Homo sapiens: one gene and its partner. The protein of the gene in region 1 interacts with the protein of each later gene in a pairwise test. Each region holds a gene or a part of one and is shown on either strand. Other genes may lie near its edges.

Evidence for each region. The genes of interacting proteins can lie anywhere in the genome.
Region 2: the proteins of CDCA7L (region 1) and AVPI1 interact in binary tests that used the Homo sapiens proteins (3 or more experiments, as listed by UniProt).

What each region holds. Positions count from the first base shown.
Region 1 is NC_000007.14:21,935,900-21,939,399, forward strand, and holds part of CDCA7L (cell division cycle-associated 7-like protein), read right to left. Parts: intron 1-3,500. UniProt on the Homo sapiens protein: Plays a role in transcriptional regulation as a repressor that inhibits monoamine oxidase A (MAOA) activity and gene expression by binding to the promoter.
Region 2 is NC_000010.11:97,684,442-97,688,549, forward strand, and holds the start of AVPI1 (arginine vasopressin-induced protein 1), read right to left. Parts: upstream 2,801-4,108; 5' UTR 2,325-2,800; intron 1-2,324. UniProt on the Homo sapiens protein: May be involved in MAP kinase activation, epithelial sodium channel (ENaC) down-regulation and cell cycling.

The DNA.
Region 1 (3,500 bases):
TTGGGAGGCTGAAACAGAGAACTGCTTGAACCCAGGAGGCGGAGGTTGCAGTGAGCCGCTACTGTGCCACTACACTCCAGCCTGGGCGACAGAGCAAGACTCCGTCTCAAAATGAATAAATAAATAAATAAATAGGATTTTAAGAGTACTATAAACAACCGTATGCCAACAAATTGGATTATCTAGATATAATGGATAAATCCCGAGAAACAAACAACCTAGCTAGATTAAATTATGAAGAAACAGAAGATCTGAATATATTTGAAATAAGGATTTTAAGTAGTAATCAAAACCCTCCCAACAAAGTAAACCCCAGGACAAGATGGCTTCATGGGTAATTCTACCAAACATTTAAAGAAGAACAAACACCAGTCTTTCTCAAAGTCTTCCAAAAACTTGAAGAAGGAGGAACACTTGAAACTCATTCTATGTGACCAGCATTATCCTGATACCAAAGCCAGAGAAAGATACTAGAAAACTATACAGCCATATCTCTTACGAATACTGATACAAGAATACTCAACAAAATGCAGGTAAAACAAATTCGGCAGTGTAGCAAAAGGATTATACAAGATCACCAAGTGGCATTTATTCTAGGAATGCAAAATGGTTCAAACACATAAAAATCAATTAATGTAGTACACCCTATGAACAGAATAAAGGGGAAAAACAAAGATCATCTCAACTGATGCAGAAAAACATCTGACAAAATTCAACACCCTTCCCTCATCAGAAAAAAAAAAAATAGAAGGAAACTTAAACTCACCAACATAAGGCTATATACGAAAAACCCGCAACTAACAAGATACTCAATGATGAATGGAAGATTGAAAGCTTTTCCCCTAAGATCAGGAGCTAGACAAATATGCCTGCTTTTACCACTTCTATTCAACGCAGTATTGGGAGGTCTAGCCAGACCAATCAGGCAAGAAAAATAAATAACGCATCCAAATTGGAAAGGAAGAAGCAAAATTTATCTCTGCTATAAGAGACGTGATTATATATGTAGAGAACACTAGAGATTACACAAAAAGTAGTTAGAGCTAACAATTAGACATTGCAGGACACAAAATCAACACAAAAATCAACTATGCTTCTACACACTAACAATGAACAATTATGAAAATTAAGAAAACGATTCCATTTACAATGGCATCAGAATAATAAAGTACTTAGAAATAAGTTTAACCAAAAAGGCGAAAAAAGCCTTGTACACTGAAAACTACATCCCCGAAAAAATCAAGGAAGACAAGGAAATGGAGAACCATCCCATGTTCATGGATTGGAAGGCTTAATATAAGGTGACAATACTAACTGAAGCTATGTACAGACTCAATGTATTCCTTCTCAAACTCTCAGTGACTTCTTTCGTAAAAACAAAAGTCCATCCTAAAATTAATGTGGAATCTCAAAGGACCCTAAATAGCCAAAACAATCTTAAAAAAGAAGAACAGACCAGGCGCAGTGGCTCACACCTGAAATCCTAGCACTTTGGGAGGCTGAGGTGGGCAGACTGCCTGAACTCAGGAGTTTCAGACCACCCTGGGCAACATGGTGAAACCCCATCTCTACTAAAATACAAAAAAAAATTAGCCAGGCATGGCAGCATGTGCCTGTAGTCCCGGCTACTCGGGAGGCTGAGGCAGGAGAATTGCTTGAACCCAGGAGGCAGAGGTTACAGTGAGCCGAGATTGCACCACTGCACCCTAGCCTAGGTGACAGAACAAGACTCCATCCCTTAAAAAAGAAAAAAAAAAAAAAGAACAGTGTTAGAGGACTCACATTTCCTGACTTCAATACTTACTACAAAGCTATAGTAATCAAAACAGTGTGGTCTTGGCATAAAGGCAGACATATATATCAATGGAAATGAATAAAGAGCCCAGATACAAACCCTTGCATATACAGTTAACTAATTTTCAACAAGGATGCCAAGAATAATGGCAAAGAACAGTATTTTCAACAAACAGTGCTGGGAAAATTGGATTAGGTTGGACCCTTACCTTAAGCCATCTATAAAAACTAACTCAAGATGGATCAAAGATCTAAATATAAGAGCTAAAACTATAAAACTCATGGAAGAAAATACAGGGGAAAAGTTTCATGACACTGAATTTGGCAATAATTTCTTGGATATGGCAACAAAAGAAAAATAAATAAACTAGACCTCAAAATTAAAAACTTTTGTGCAAAGGGCGCTATCAAGACAGTGAAAAGGCAACCTATATAGAATGAGAGAAAATATTTGCAAATAATATCTAATAAGGGATTAATATCCAAGATATATAAATAACTCACTTAACAACTACAAAAACCCAGTTAAGAAATGGGCAAAGGACTTGAATTAACATTTCTTCAAAGAAGAGGTACAGGTGACCAACGGGCACAAGAAAAAAATTCTTAACATCACTAATCATTGGGGAAATGCAAAACAAAACCACGATGAGATACCACTTTATGCACATTAGAATGGCCATTAAAAAAAAATCCAGGAAAGAACTAGGGCTGGCAAAGACGTGAAGAAATTGGAACACTCGTGCACTGCTTATGATGATATAAAATGACACAGCCACTGTGCCAAACAGTATAGTGGTTTCTGAAAAAATTGAATTTAGTATTATCATATAACCCAGCAATTCTACTTTTAGGAACACACACCCAGAACAACTGAAAGCAGGGACTGAAGCAGATATTTGTATGCCAATGTTTATTCATTGGTATTTACAATAGCCAAAAGGTGGAAACAACCGACAACATAAATAGATGAGTAAATAAAGATGGTATGTACACATAAGAGTATTATTCAGACTTTAAAAGAAATGACGTCAGGCACAGTGTCTTATGCCTCTAATCCCAGCACTTTGGGAGGCCAAGACAGGAGGATTGCTTGAGCCCAGGAGTTCAAGACCAACCTGGGCAACACAGAGACTCCATCTCTACCAGAAATTTTAAAAAGAAAAATTAGCCAAGCAGGGTAGTACATACCTATAGTCCCAGCTACTCAAGAGGTTGCAGTGGGAGGATCACTTGAGCCCAGGAGGTCAAGGCGCAGTGAGCCACGATAGCACCACTGCACTCCAGCCTGGGCAACAGAGTGAGACCCTGTCTCAAAAGAGAAATAATTGAAAAAAAATTCTGATACATACTATAACATGGATAAACTTTAATAACAATGTTAAGTGAAATGAGCCAGTGACAAAAGGACAAATACCATATGATTCCACTCATATGAGATACCTAGGATAGTCATATCCTCAGAGACAGAAACTAAAACAGAAGTAACCAGGGGCTGGAGGAAGAGGTCATAGGGGTAATTGTTTAGTAGGTAGAGAGTTTCAGTTTAAAATGATGAAAAAGCTCATGAGAGATCAGTGATGGCGGCACAACATTGTGACTATACTTAGTAACACTGAAAGGTTAAAAATAGTACCTTTTATTATGTATATCTTACCACAATAAAAAGCCCCACAGGGTAGTCAATGTTATGTTTAAAAGAGAAG
Region 2 (4,108 bases), on another chromosome or scaffold:
AACCTTAGGGAGGGCCTAGCACCTCCAGATTTTGAGGCCCCTCACTCTTTTTACTCTTTTTTTTTTTTTTTTTTGAGGCGGAGTCTCACTCTGTCACCCACGCTGGAGTGCAGTGGCGCAATCTCAGCTCACTGCAACCTCTGCCTCCAAGGTTCAAGCAATTTTCTTGCCTCAACAACCTCCCAAGTAGCTGGGATTACAGGTGCCCACCACACGCCCGACTAATTTTTGTATTTTTAGTAGAGACAAGGTTTCACCATGTTGGCCAGGCTGGTCTTGAACTCCCGACCTCAAGTGATCCACCCACCTCATCCTCCCAGAGTGTTGGGATTATAGGCGTGAGCCACCATGACCGGCCAAGCCCCTCACTCTTGGCTCTGTCTCTTATTCTGGGATTCAGACAGCAGAGTGAGGCTGGGAATAAAACTAGGCTGATTCCAGGTAGGATTAGATGGTTAAGTTTTGGGAAAACCGATGAAATGTCGAATCAGAACACTTTTATTATCAAAGGAAACTTTTCCTGTCTCATTCCATGTGTTCAATAGTTATTTTCCCTCCAATTTCCTGGAGAAGACCTTAGTCCAGGAAAAGTCAGTGTATACTTGCACAATAGTACTTTTGAAAACTAGAAAATGAAACCATGGGGCTATTAAAAGATTACAAATGGACCTTTCATTTCAGAACTGACATAAAAGAAGGTAAGTATGGGTCTGTGTACAAACGAGTAAAGACCAATTGCAAAATACTTCAATTTGACACAAACTAGGTTGAAAGTGAACCCCAAAGGAAATACCAAACATTGAAAATGACAAAGTTCAACTTGTTTTGAAACAGGCAATAAGTGAAGAACTGTGGAACCCTAACAAAGAAATATATTTAAAAAGTGACTCACCATGCAATGAATTTGCAATATATAAATATGGCGCGCAATTGAGCACTCTTTGCAATATATGAAGTTCAGTTCAGACAGCTATTCTAGGAGAGTATCTCACTGCAGTCCCAGGGAGGCACAGGTAACCACCAGAGGCAGAACACATTTGGGTGAGCTGGCAACTCCTAGGTCCTCATGCAGGAGGAGGCCCCCTTCCAATAACCCAGGTGATAGCAATAATCTCTGTAATCAGGGGCCTAGGGGCTCTTAGAAAAATTACTGGAGGCTCTGGCCCAAGGCCTGAATCAACACTTGGGACCCTGGCCTGCTATCCTATACAGACATGCCACTGGACAGCAGCCAAAATCTGTGGCTCCTCAAATGGGAAGCCCAGTTCAAATCGCTGTGTGGGCTTCCCCACCAGCAGGGCCTAGCCTCAGGGAGGTATGCCGAGACAACTGGATATACATTGGCCTCCAAATCCATGCCCCTGGAGGTGGAGAAAGGAACTGGGCCCTTTCCCCAGACCAGTTCTCATATATGACCTGGAAATAAACTGCTACTAGATCTAGGGATAACCCTTTCAAGATTTCTAGAACCCTGAATTCTGGCTGTGCTGCTAACTGGGTGACCTTGGATAAGTCTCAGTTTCCCCTGCCACAAGTTGCTCGTCATCAAAATAGTATAAGGCCAGGCCTGGTGGCTCACGCCTGTAATCCCAGCACTTTGGGAGGCTGAGGTGGGAGGATTGCTTGAGCCCAGGAGTTCCAGACCAGCCTGGTCAACATAGCAAGACTGCCTCTATAAAATTTTAAATAAGCTTTTTAAAATAAATGGTGAGTATAAATAACTCTTAACAGGAAAAGGGAGATTAAGTTTGTGACGGCATTCCTTCTAGTACCTGGTATACCACAGACATTCTATGCATGCTGGTTGAATGAATAAATGATGAAGGGAAAGGCTGTTTGACTACCAGGGGCTATAGAATCATTGTCATTTTCATCATCACAGCCATCAACAAATCTGTGTACTTTTAAATCATAGCTTTATGATTAAAATCATAGAGGCAGCTTGTTCAGTGTCAAGCGCAGAACAGAGCACGTTCAGATGGGTGCTTTCTTTCCTCCTCACTTAAGGTGGCACTATTGTTATACCCATTTTACAGATGAGAAAGCTACACCCAAAGTCACACAGCTGGCAGGTGATGGAAGCTGGGACATGAACCCAGGCAGTCTGACCCCAGCACCCGGGCTCTCAAGCCACTGTTATTTTTGTTCCTGCCAGATGGCTGAGGAGGTCTTCTGGGGAAGGTCGGTCCCAGAAGCCTTTCGGAGGCTATCTGCTTCTGTAGATTGTGGAAGGAGCAGGGAGGGATCCAAAGTCAGGACTCCCAAGCTAGCCTCTGTACCCTCTGCACTCCACTGCCCGGTGGAGAATTGGAGCAGGTACTCACCACACTGAAGGGCAGCTCCGACAGACCTCAAATGGGGATGGGGCAAGCTAAGATGCGCCCACTCCAACCTCTTCCACAGCCTTCAGAAAGGGCAGGCGCAGCTCTGCGAAGGTGCTTACAAGGGCCAGTCGGTGATCACGGGCAGCACAAGAGCATGGCAGAGGGTATCCTGGCCGAGGTCCTAAGGCGACATCTGCAGCACGAGGAGGCCCCGGGACTCAGACGTGGCCGCTTCGCAGAACGACGGGGTCCTAAGTGGATCTGGCGGTCGCGTCCCGCTGGCACCCCGGCTCTGACTGTCGCCCTCCGGCTCCCACCGCAGCGCCGAGCTGGGCCGCCGACCTACGTACCTGGTTGCTTGAGGCAGGCCGCACGCAGCCCCAAACTGGTCCGGGCCACTTGGGTCACAGCCGCGGTTCCCGGGAGAAAGCGCTCCCTAGCCCCGGAACAGCCAATCCTCGGCCCTAGCCAGGTATGAGCTCCCAGGCGAGCCTTCCAAACCCAAGGCGGAGTTCCGTGCGCCAATCATCGGTGGGAGACAGGGAGGGGGCGTGTCCATCCCCGCCCCCCGCCTCCGCTGGCCTCGAAAGCGGAGTGCGAAGCTTCCTCAAACCTAATCGGCGGCGGAGCGGCGGTGAGGGGGCGTGTCTGCCCGGGCCCTGCCCACCGCCCTCTCCGCCCCCGCGCGGCGCCCGAGGCGCCCCCTTCATTGACGTCAGTCCCCAGGGCCAGCGCGGTTTTGCTGGCGCGGGAGCTGGGCGGGGCTGCATTCCTGCCCCAGGGTGCGGCGAAAGCTGGCCCTGCCGGGTACACGTGACGGATGCCCCTTCTCCTGGGCCCGAGGCCAGCGCGCGCGGCACTGACTGCCTTGCAGCGCGTGGCCCTCTGCAGATCCTCAGACTCTGCCGCTCAAGTCCCCTCCCAGCCCACCGTTTGGCTCCGGCTTTGAGGGAGAGGAGGGGGCAGTCTGCTGGAGTCAGACCTTGGGCTTCAAAGCCAGAATGTCGTGGGTTCAAATATTGGGTCATTTGTGCGACTTTGGGCCGGTTACCTAAACAAGACCGTATTTTAAAGTTTGTATGCATTCGGAAATGTTCATTAGTGACCTATGCTGTCCGAGTTCCTTGATAGGCCGTAAACAAGAGAGACGGAAAGACCTATAGCCCTTGTCCTGGGGAGTCTACAGCCTAGTAAGGGAGGCAGGCATTAAACAACCTAAAACATGGAGTATGTGATTACAGTTGTGATCAATGTTATGGCTATAAGAGGATAAATATGGAGGAACCTAAGCTTCCTCTGGGAGGTTCAGGAGGGCTGAAGAAGCAGCATTTAAGCTGAGATATAAAGAAGGAGTTGAAACTGGTCAAATGAAGAGGAGTGGATCTGGGGAGACTGCTTTAAGGAAAGAGGGAAAGGCATTTGGTTGGGCCAGGAGGTAGCTTGGCTCCGGAGGAATTAAATGCGACCCGGAGTAAGGCTAGCAAGAGAGAGCACGGTGGGAAGTAGAAGGCAGAGGCAGGCAGAGAAGGTTGCATGTGATCCTTGGAGGGGTTTAAACAAGGAATGGCATTATATGTACTGTGTTTATGTAACGGGCATTTTATAGTACTTACCACGTACCAGTAGTGTCAGTCAGCACTTTGCAAATTTCATCATCATGACAAGTTTGTGTTTTTAGAAGGTCACTCTGGCTGCAGTTTGGAACTTGGATTGGAGGGGGCAGGAGTGGAGGCAGGGTGTCCAGTAGGCCTCTGATAAATGCTTGTTTTGTCCTTGGAAGATGA